Linked DNA regions of Homo sapiens: region 1 is linked to region 2. A link means that fine-mapping ties the variant in region 2 to the expression of a gene that starts in the linked region. Tissue or cell type: whole blood. Region 2 holds a variant in brackets; the other region holds the start of a gene. All regions are shown on one strand. Distances are between the middles of the regions.

What was found.
Region 1: PTDSS1 starts here. The variant in region 2 is fine-mapped to the expression of PTDSS1 in whole blood (TOPMed, PIP above 0.99).

The regions. Positions count from the first base shown.
Region 1 is chr8:96,258,642-96,264,020 of GRCh38, forward strand. It overlaps PTDSS1 (phosphatidylserine synthase 1), which reads left to right and starts at 3,261. Exons shown (of 13, transcript NM_014754.3): 1 at 3,261-3,578. The coding sequence starts at 3,400. It overlaps MTERF3 (mitochondrial transcription termination factor 3), which reads right to left and starts at 2,969. Exons shown (of 8, transcript NM_015942.5): 1 at 2,860-2,969; 2 at 1-59. The coding sequence starts at 49. RefSeq lists enhancers at 1,722-2,415, 2,567-2,626, 3,109-3,801, 3,947-4,186 and silencers at 2,790-3,114, 2,867-3,016, 3,197-3,566, 3,617-3,796.
Region 2 is chr8:96,331,266-96,336,623 of GRCh38, forward strand. PTDSS1 (phosphatidylserine synthase 1) reads left to right here. Exons shown (of 13, transcript NM_014754.3): 13 at 2,192-5,358. The coding sequence ends at 2,301. Among named protein-coding and RNA genes, the nearest start is that of PTDSS1, 72 kb to the left of the region's middle. The variant C/T (reference allele first, on the strand shown) is at 2,386.

The DNA.
Region 1 (5,379 bases), 73 kb before region 2:
ACTTAACTGAGTTAAACCATCTGGGTATCTGTTGGGCTGACAAAGCCATTTTTCTTAGTCTACAAAGGAAAGATATAACCGTCAAAAGAAGAGAAATTTAATTTACTTAAATGTTTAAAACGGTATTCAAACAACAAAAAGATAAACTGGAAATTATTTTTTTCTAATTGAAAGGTGTTTAAATATATATTTAGTCTAAAATAGTGAGATGTTTCTTATGTACAGGAAAAGCCAACAACAAGGCAATCTCAGTTACAAACCAACAGACAGGAACTTCTGAGTGGAAAAATAAAGATATACTTTACAATTTAAAAACAAAATGCAATGACACTGGTGTAAGAAAAATGCTTAAAACAAAAATCTGCAAATGTTCAAGTGACAGCAGACCTCACTAATCTGTTAATTTAATCATTTAAAGAGAATAAGCTGATGCAAATAAGTGTTCTTGAAATTTGGTGTGAAGGGTGTTTCCGCAGCACATTGCTGATCAAAGTAACACTGAATTATTCAAATGCATTTTATGTATATAAATTTGTCCCAAAATGAAAAAACAGAAATCTACTGTGTCCTAAACAAATCATCAAAATATTATCATTGATATACAGAACAGTGAAAGCAGTTTCTTGCTTCATTCTCAGGGCTGAACACTGTTGATTACTTCACAGATAAAGCTGTTCTTCCAAAGGGAATTGAACAAAACCAGTTTTGTCAAGTTTTGTTTCACTGTAGGAAAGGAGAAAAAAGCCTTCAAAAAGAAAAGGTCAAAACTAGTAACAAAACCAAGTGACAGAAATAAATAAGCAACCAGCAATTAATACCTGTATATTTTGACTGAAAAAGTAGTTTTCAAAAATATTTTTATCAGGAAAGGCTAGTGCTATGTTAAACTCCAGGAATATGAAGGGATTTTATATTTAGCCAGCTAATTAGAAAGGTAAATTTGATGCATATAATCTTACGTTAAATAACATTATCCATATAAAACACAGGATGGAGTCAGGATATAAGAAATGCTCAATAAATGTTAGCCATTATTATTGGTTACACAACCAAATACAAAAATTCTGCTGAATTAATTGCTGCCTACAACTTTATACTTTGTTTTTCTGCATACTGGAATTCAGCTTGTTTTATGCTCTAAATTAGACCAAATACTTGAGGGTCTAATCTTTTCTTGGAGATCTGTAGTTTTGGGAAGTTTGCTGAAAGAGATTTTACAAAAGTGAAAGTTTCCTTTCATTCTGCAATTATTTATTATTATTATTATTATTATTTTTTTTGAGACGGAGTTTCGCCCTTGTTGCCCAGGCTGGAGTACAACGGCACCATCTTGGCTCACTGCAACCTCTGCCTCCCAGGTTCAAGTGATTCTCCTGCCTCAGCCTCCCGAGTAGCTGGGATTACCCACGCCCGCTACTATGCCCGGCTAATTTTTTGTGTTTTTAGTAGAGACGGGGTTTCACCATCTTGGCCAGGCTGGCCTCGAACTCCTTACCTCAGGTGATCCACCCAGCTTCCCAAAGTGCTGGGATTACAGGCGTGAGCCACTGCGCTCGGCCCATTCTGCGATGATTTTAGAAAAGAAGTAAGTATTCACAATACCCTGCTGGGATAGGTGGTTTCTGTTAGATTTTGGTGGGAAATGGGACTCCAAATGTGCCAAGTTTTCCCTCAAACCTACAACATTCATTCTCTGCACGGTAGTCATAAGGGCACTAAATTGAAAGTCAGAAGACCTCGGTTGTGCTACCTTGACAAGGCTGTTTCTGGCAGCAGTCTAACAAAAGCAGCAGTCTAGCCCATGATGTGGGGGGTGGGGGTGGGGTCAATAACTATTCTTCAAATAATGCTTTTTTAAAAGGCTAGGGGTACAATAAGATGATTCTTAAGGCCCCTATCAGCTCTAACATTTTTTGACGTCTAAGCACTTCATCCTACTTCAAACTCCTGAAATCCCAAATTCATCCTGAAGCCTTTCCACACTCAATACCACTTAAACATCAGGAAGACTCACTTTCAAATTTCACCCCGTCATTAAAAGATCTTTGTGCATACAACTAATGTTTATCCTTGCATTTTTATTTACAAGTGCACTATCTTCTCCACATCCTTTCATTGCTGCCTACACATCTTAACAATTGATTAACTGTTCATGCACGAGAGCAGAGCTGGGTCTCATCCCTGGATCCATCCTTCCGGGGACTATTCTCCACTTTCCCAGAGCCTTGTACTGCTCTAATGTTTGCGGAATGGAAATAAATCAATGGCAAGTACAGTTAACTCACTTGCTTACACAGTATGCAAAAGCGGGTAGGGGATGTGCAGATGTGTATAAAAGCCCTGTAAGGTGGTAACCTGAAGTCTTCTAACAAGGTCCTTTCATCAGGAAAATTACAGAAAACCCTTAAAGAAACTGAAGTCTCTTAACAATTCATATATACTGTTCTCAATGAGTGCCTAGTGCTTCGCTAGAAAAAGGCACTGAAATAGAGTTCAAGATTTCTACCTACGAAATGCTATAAATGAAATCAGGAGAGAAAGGGAGGTTATGGGGGCAGCTTCCTAATAAAGGGTCTCTCAATACTTCCCAGGCCATTTTAGCCCACTTCAGTTCCCCAAACTTGCGCAGGAAGGCAGAGCCCCCTCCTGAGGCTTCTCACACTGCGCTAATTAGCCAGCATGGTTGAGTTTTCACTACATCAGCCAGGGAAAAACACAAAACAAAACCAATCACCCTCTACTGGGCCGCGAAAACCTAAAGGCCCTTGAGGCCCTGGGGCGCGGTCTGGACGCGGGTGCGCCGGAACCTGAACCCTCGCCAGGAGCGCGATCCTCGTGCTGGGGCAGCTCCTGCTTTACCTGTGGCGAGGCCTGCTTCCCGTAGCGGGTGACCCCGGGACCGACCAACTCGCTGGGCCGCACGTCCCGTCCCGCCGCGCCGCACGCCGGCTCCTCAGCCCGCCCTACACAGCGCAGCCGCGCTCCCGGGCCCACGTGGGCCGCGCCCGGAGTGGGCGAGACCATGTGCCGGGTTACGCGGGGAGACAGCGGGCTACGTGCTCTGAAAAGAGCCAGCCAGGGGCCCCGGCTACCCTTCTCCGGCTCGCTATTCCTCTGAAGTCCTGTGGACTTGGAGTCTGAAAATTCCTCGAGTGGTAGAGATGCCTCAGCTAGGATGACAGCGTGGGGACGGCCGGCGGCGTCCCCTGCCCCAGGCCGCGGTGGCGGCGCCGCGACCCCGCCCTCTCGCGCCTGTCCTTCCCTCTGCTCCCAGCCTTTGCTGGGCGCCAGACCCGGCTTTGCCGTCCGGCTATTAGCCTACTGTGGCTAGTCACCCCCGGGGTCCCGGCCTTCTCGGGCTGGGGCCGCCGCCACCGCGGCAGGACGGGGAGGCGGGCCATGGCGTCCTGCGTGGGGAGCCGGACCCTAAGCAAGGATGATGTGAACTACAAAATGCATTTCCGGATGATCAACGAGCAGCAAGTGGAGGACATCACCATTGACTTCTTCTACCGGCCGCATACCATCACCCTGCTCAGCTTCACCATCGTCAGCCTCATGTACTTCGCCTTTACCAGGTGGGGCGGCCCAGCCGAGCGGGGGGCGCGTCCAAGGGCTAGGGAAGAGGCGGGAGGGAGGGTGGCGGGGAGGGGGGCCCGGCATGGCTCTGGGTGAGGAAGTGGGCTGGCTGCTCCACGCACACGCACTGGCAGCCCGCCGCCCACGCGGCCCCTCCGCCCGCCCGGTGTCTCACAGTACGCTAGCCTGCTCCCCTACCCCTCAGTGCCCCTTCTCCATACAGCGCCTCCGGTTACACGGGGAACGCACGCGAGTCACCTAGCACGATCGCCCCCTCACCCACCGCACTCAGCATCGCTCCACACAACATCACGACGCGGGCCCCTCCTCTGCACTGCTCCAGCCTTCGTCCCTACCCAGCACACCGCATGAATCATGTCGTATGCACCACTTTCAGCACACACCGCTACACATACAAAGCACCCCAATCCACAGCGCCTGCAGGCACCATACACAGGCCCAGGACACAACCTAGATCCCTTCCTGTGGAACTCCGGTATTCGGCACTATCCGTAACGCACAAAAAATGCACATGTGTGCTGCATACACGGTCTTTCCTGTGCAGCACTTCCCGTATGCATTGCACACAAGTCATCCAGCATAACACTTCCCCCAGCCTCAAACACTACCATCTGTACCACGGCACAAACTGCCACTCTAAACACACACCTCACAGCGGACCTTTCCTTTCCAGCACAGCCCAATACCCATCATCTGTGTACATGGCTGCACAGACACCAGCCCGCCACACATCACGCGGTGCATACCCTGCTCACTCATTACCTAACATACGTGCTGAAATGTGATCTTGTCCAGCAATTTTAATGGTGCCTGGGGTATAGTAACTGCTGTGTGTTAAATGAAACACATAAACCTCACACAGCATAACACAACTCTCTTATTCCCTGGAAAACATACACACACATTCTAATATATACCGGTTCATAGGAGCTGCCCAGCCCAAATCTTGAACACACCTCATGTTAACTCTGGCACTGCGCCTGTGGCTCCTCATTCCTAACCTAGAGAACTAATTCATCCTTGGTTCATAAGGAGGTACACACCGTGGTTCCTACTTAGAATGATTTATACTTTCTGAATGAACCTCTTTAAAGAAAGGGAAGTCACACCTCTCTCACCATTATGGCTTAAAAGGCCAACTTAGAGTAGAGTAGTTTTTGAGCCACACTTTTGGTTTCAAAACTGGCTGTGTGTCCTTAATTAAGTTGCATAACCTTGCTCTGAGCCTCAGGGGCCACACTCGTAAAATGGGGATGAAATATCTACTTATATAGGGTTATGAAAATTAAATGAATGTGTGTGAATGCATTTAGCAGAGTCCCTGGAGCACAATGTACAATTCATGTCAGTTACTTCTCTCCCAGTATTTTTATCCAACAATCAAGGTTCTCTGTCAGGGTCAGCAGAACATGTGTAGGGATATATATATTGGGTAGTCACAAGGATTGAGAGAACTTCTAGTATTTGGGAGGGGGAGCAGTTAACGGATACTAAATGTATTGTGACATATGTGACAGCGCTGTACAACATAAAGGGAATTGTCTTCTACACAGTCGTTTGCATACACACACACAAGTGCCGGTGGTGCCTCCCTTAGGAATAACTGCAGTTTTTCAAATCCTCATAAAACTAATATCCTCCCACATCACACTTGTTCCTTACCTCTGGGATTCATTTGACTCTTGGTTCTTGTTATGTAAGTGTTTATCCATTTGAAAGAATCTACCTAAAGGTATAAAGCTTAAGTAACAATTGCTTACTCTTTAATGATTGAGGGAT
Region 2 (5,358 bases):
GCCTGTAATCCTAACACTTTGGGAGGCTGAGGTGGGCAGATCACTTGAGATCAGGAGTTCGAGACCAGCCTGGCCAACATGGTGACACCCCCGTCTCTACAAAAAATACAGAAATTAGCCAGGTGTGGTGGCGGGCGCCTGTAGTCCCAGCTACTCAGGACGCTGAGCCAGGAGAATCGCATGAACCTGGAAGGCGGAGGTTGCCATGAGCCAAGATCGTACCACTGCACTCCAGCCTGGGCAGCAGAGTAAGACTCTGTCTCAAAACCACGGCACTCCAGTCTCGGCAGCAGAGTAAGACTCTGTCTCAAAAAAAAAAAAAGAAAAGAAAAGAAAAAGAAACATGCAAAATGCTCACAGGATCTGAGTGAAAGACTTGGTTTGTAAGAAGAGGCTCCATGTAGCTCTGCCCTTCGTGAGGGCCCCACACCATTTCAAGCACCCTGATGGGAACGTTCTTCCTCTTGGCTTCCATCATGAGTGAACAGGAAGAACTGTATATCCGGCCAGGCACAGTGGCTCACGCCTGTAACCCCAGCGCTTTGGGATGCCATGGCAGGATCATTTGAGGCCAGGTATTTGAGACCAGCATGGGCAACAGAGCAAGACCCTGTCTCTACAAAAATCTTAAAAAATTAGCCAGATGTGGTGGCACATGCCTGTAGTTACAGCTAGTCAGGAGTCAGAGATAGGAGGGTCACTTGAGCCCAGGATCACTCCCATGTGGAAGACAGAACAAGTCCCTGCCTCTTAAAAAAAAAAAAAAAAAAAAAAAAAAAAAAGGTACTGTGTATCAGGAGGAAAAGCCTTTCAAAAGAGGGGGATCATTTTAATGGCATTTATTCAAGAGGCAGGGCAGTGTAAGAGATTTTGGTCGTGTAGTTAGGGAACCTCCACTGGCCTCTAAGGATCACTTTGGGAATATTTGGGGCCACCTGGTTATTTCAAAGAATTAGACTTGTAGAATAATGACATTGAGGTGATTTCATTGGACAGTAATTCCTCGTCAATCCTTATAAGCTACTTGGGAAGCTTGGCTGAAGAAAGAAAATTAGAAATACTAAAGACTGAATTTTAGCTCACAAAATTGCTCAGAGAAACGGTGGGCCAATGGAGAAGAAAGCGCCCTGTTGCAGTCATTCTCCTAAGTTCTTTTGGCATCAGGCTCATTAAAGATCTCCCAGGGGAGACACTAACATACACTCTGCTGAGCTGCTGGCCGCCCTTTTGGGGAAAGTTTCTCCTGAACCACGGAATTGATCAGTGAGCGGCCCGTTGTGAAATCTGATAGAGATGGACAGAGGGGCTCCCCAGCTATCTTATTTAGAACCATGCCCTTACAAACAACCTTGGCACTTACAGGTTCTCCACTGAAGAGAATTAAGCAGTAGTAGAGATGTATTTACTTGATGGAATAATAAAAAAAGAAAAATAACAAAAACAGAAGTCTTCTGAGTGGGGAAAGAATCTCTTAGTCTAAGTCAAATGCTCCTTACAGTGGAGACTGTAACTCTGGTAACTTTTTTTTTGTTGGCAGCCTCAGGTGGAGATTTCCTATGGGGCTGGATCAGAGCCCTGGGGCAGAGAACCCTTTGGCTTGGCCGCTAGGCCAGGCAGGGGCTGAACAAAGGCTCAGCTGGAGGGCAGAGGCTGCCCAGTGCCCTCCATCGTGGGCAGCAGGGGCCTGAATTGTAAAGATGTTCTCCAGATCAAATGTAGAGGGTGTGAAATAGCTCTGATTTTATAGTGTCAAGAGTCTTTCCTGATGTCGGGTTTAGAAGGTGGTGTGGAGCAGGTGAAGGGATGGAAACCCTTGGTTGCAGGGCAGGATGGGCACCGCGTGGTGTGTGTTTTAATTGCCCCTCGTTTGGGCTTCCGTTTCACTTGTGCTCTCACTTCTGGTCCTCACCATCATGACCATGTCCATCATACACAGGACAGATGTACACACGCTTCAGGAACCACCCAGACTTTGGGGCGCTATTGCGTTGAACCCCGCGCCACCGCGTGTGCTCCTTCAGTACTAGTTCTGTGTTTGAGAGCCTCGCCTTCATTTATGAATGAGGCCACTAGGGGGAGTGCACGTATCAGGGAAGAACCTGTTCCCCGGCAAGCCTAGGGCGGTCTGGAAAGGGACAGTCACCAATCTCCAGAGCCCAGGGTGACGGTGTGCTCTGATTCCTTTGGCCAGGTTCTGAAGACAGCCCACCCAAGCATGCAGGCAACAACGAAAGCCATTCTTCCAGGAGAAGGAATCGGCATTCCAAGTCAAAAGTCACCAATGGCGTTGGAAAGAAATGAAAAACCCTGGTTAATCAAAGATGTTCCAGAGTGCCTAGAACTGAGAGGGAAATGGAACTCATTTGGAACTCCCCGTGAGGAGGT[C/T]GAGGCGCACAGGGCAAGCAGGAAGAGGCGAGGGCACTTGGGGGTCATTATTTGAGATCGTAAGTCTTGTTTCCCACAGACCTGGCCGCGTCAGGCAGATCATCGCCTGGGGGGCCTTTGCCAACGTGGGGTCTCTTCTAACTTCAGCACTTGACATGCGGTCACCGGTGGCAGCGCGGTGTGTTGAAGGGAAACGGTAGCTATTCATTCACAGTTGCCAAGAGCAGCTCCGCGCCTGCTGGATCGTGGATGCAGCGTAAACATCTTCCTTCAGACGAGGCATTAACCCCATGGTTAATGGACTGGTCACCAGTTTTTATTTTATTTTTATGAATCTACCTTTCCATTGATTGATTTAAGTTCAGGCCACTTTTCTGTCTTTTATTTGGTTACTGTTGTTATTTGTTTTTAAGTTAGGATGCTTTTTAACAGCCTTTAGAAGCCGCTGCTGAAATTGATACTGGGGGAAGGGTTCCCCTTCCTTCTAGAGCAGAAAAGGGAGAGAGGTGTTGTATTCCTGTTTGGTAACCTCAGTCTCCTGTAAGACCTCCTACCACATGGCGAGTATACACCAATCAGGAGAGGGTAGCTGCCTGCATAGGAGCCTCGCTTCCGATTATTCCCTTCCCAATATTATTCATCCAGACTTAGCCACAGTGCACAAAAGCAAACCTGCTAGAGAGGCAGTGAACACCACAGCTTCTCCCCAGCTAGGTGCCTTTTACATCGGGTTTGTTCTCCTTCCATGGTGTGTTGCTGACATTGTCACTGAGTCCCATGTGAGGTGCTGGTGAGTATTACCTTTCATCTGTGCCATGCTCTAGAACCTTGACCTTGATAGTTCACCACCTCTGATGGATCCCTGTTTTAAATAAAAACGATTCACTTTAAAGCCTATCAAAGGTCTGTCTGTAAAATGCTCATTTTCTTGCATCTTACTGGTATCTTCTATTGATTGTAAGCAGTCTGTGTTTTTCAAGTGACTTTAGGATAATATATATGTGTTTTACATAGTGAGAAGAAAAAAGAAAAGATGTGTATTTTAAAGGGCTTACAGACATATATGTCCTACTTCTTAGACTACCCAAGTGACCAACAGGAATGAACAACATAGTCATTGTTTTTTCCTGTGGTAATGGTTTCCAAGTTGGACTTTTTTTTCCTCTAACAAGAGGCCAGTACCCAGTTGATTAGCTTACAGATATCAACTCACTGAAAGTAATCTTTTGTTCCCTCATTTCACACAGCACAAAGGTTCGTTCTGATGTTTCTTCTTCTTTAAGGAAATCTTTAGCCATAGAAGTGTCACTTTTTTTTTTTCTGCAAAAGAATTCCAAGATGAACGGGTTGAATGAATCATGCCAGCCAGGGTCACATCCTGTCCTCAGGGGGCCCAGTGCTCAATAGTAGATTCTGCGGGAGTGGAGAAGCGTCAGTGGCAGCTCCGCTCACTTGGTGAGTGAGGGATTTGGCTGTGATGAGCCTCAGCTCCGAGCTCTCAAATGTCCTCCAGCCAGCATCTGCCTGCTTCCCACAAAAGGATAGAAGAGAGGCAAAGTGCGTGTTTCATAAAACCTGCCTGCACTTTTATAACCCATCAAAGAGGCCATTTTTAAACACAGGTACAATTTAAACATGATCTTTCTTTGCAAATAAATATGTTTTGTTTCATCCTGTGTTCTGCTTTTCTAAGCATGACATACTTGTGCCCATTGGAGAAGACACCTGTCTCTTCTTTCTCACACCGGTGGTGCCTCACTGAGTGTTTCCGGGTTCATTTTCCGGGAGCACTGGGCCTGACACTTTCACACTCTTCTGACTTTCGCCTTGTTGCAACTGATGGAGCATGTGTGCTTCCTCTGAGGCCAGCCTACAGGAGGCAGCTGTTTCGCAGGTGGTGAATTCGACTTTACTGTGGCATTGTGAAGAGCAGGGTGCACAGGAGATGATTTTTTCTCCATGGCTTTGTAAGAAACAGCCAGGAAAGTTCTCAGATACTTTCCATGCCCTTTCTTTGAGTTGAAACTTTCTATTTCCCTTCAGTCAGAGCTCTTTACTATAGTAGTTACAAAACCAGTGCTTTCCATGGCTGGCCAGAACCACAGCTGCTATTCCTTTTAGAAGCCATACTGCTGGGTTTGGCCTACTTTTTTCACCGTTTCTATGGAAATAAACCTCACATTGATGGAAATAGAATGCGTGTTTCAGAATCATCATTCAATATCTGAAATGATTTGATTGTAAATTATCTCATGGTCCCTGTTTGCAAACCACCCTCTTAAGAGAGAACATTGTTTTGGACCTAAAGCTTGAAGAACGGTTTATGTATTTTTCTCCTTAAGTAGCATTGCATTGAGTGTTAGGTTCTTTTCCCTTTTTTTCATTCTTGGTCTTCCCAAAGCTTCTTCCCACATTTCGTTTGTGTCTGTTTCCACCATTCATAGAAACCTTGGAACCACTCTCACAGCAATGCTAGGATGTTTCATGGACCTGTTAAGCATTTTGATGATACAAGACATCCTATCAATGCCAGTCTTATTTTCGCTAGGACTCTGCTTCCACAGTAAGCTCCTAAGGTGCTCACCCAACCCAGGAGAAAACAAAATTCATTACCAAATACAACAGGTTCAGCCTTCTTGGTCTTCCCTCAGAAGCCACCGTGTAGCACCCTGGAATGATGCCTCTTTATGCCAAGGCCCACCCTTTGGAATTGGGAGGGTTTTGGGTAGAATCCTGCACTTACAGAGGCCCTTGGGGTCATTGAGAAGTGGAGGAGGTTGGACACAGAAGGGGAGGCTAAACACAAGGTGGGGAAGAAAAAATGTAACCATTGGCAGCCAGACTGAAGCTAGCCCTTTAAAATACGGGGTTGGGGGGTTAACATCCGCTCTTTGGAATGTGCTCAGTGACTGCTGCAGAGTTCCTGGGCCACCCTAATGTTTACCAGGTGGGCGTTGTTTATATGGTTCTTAT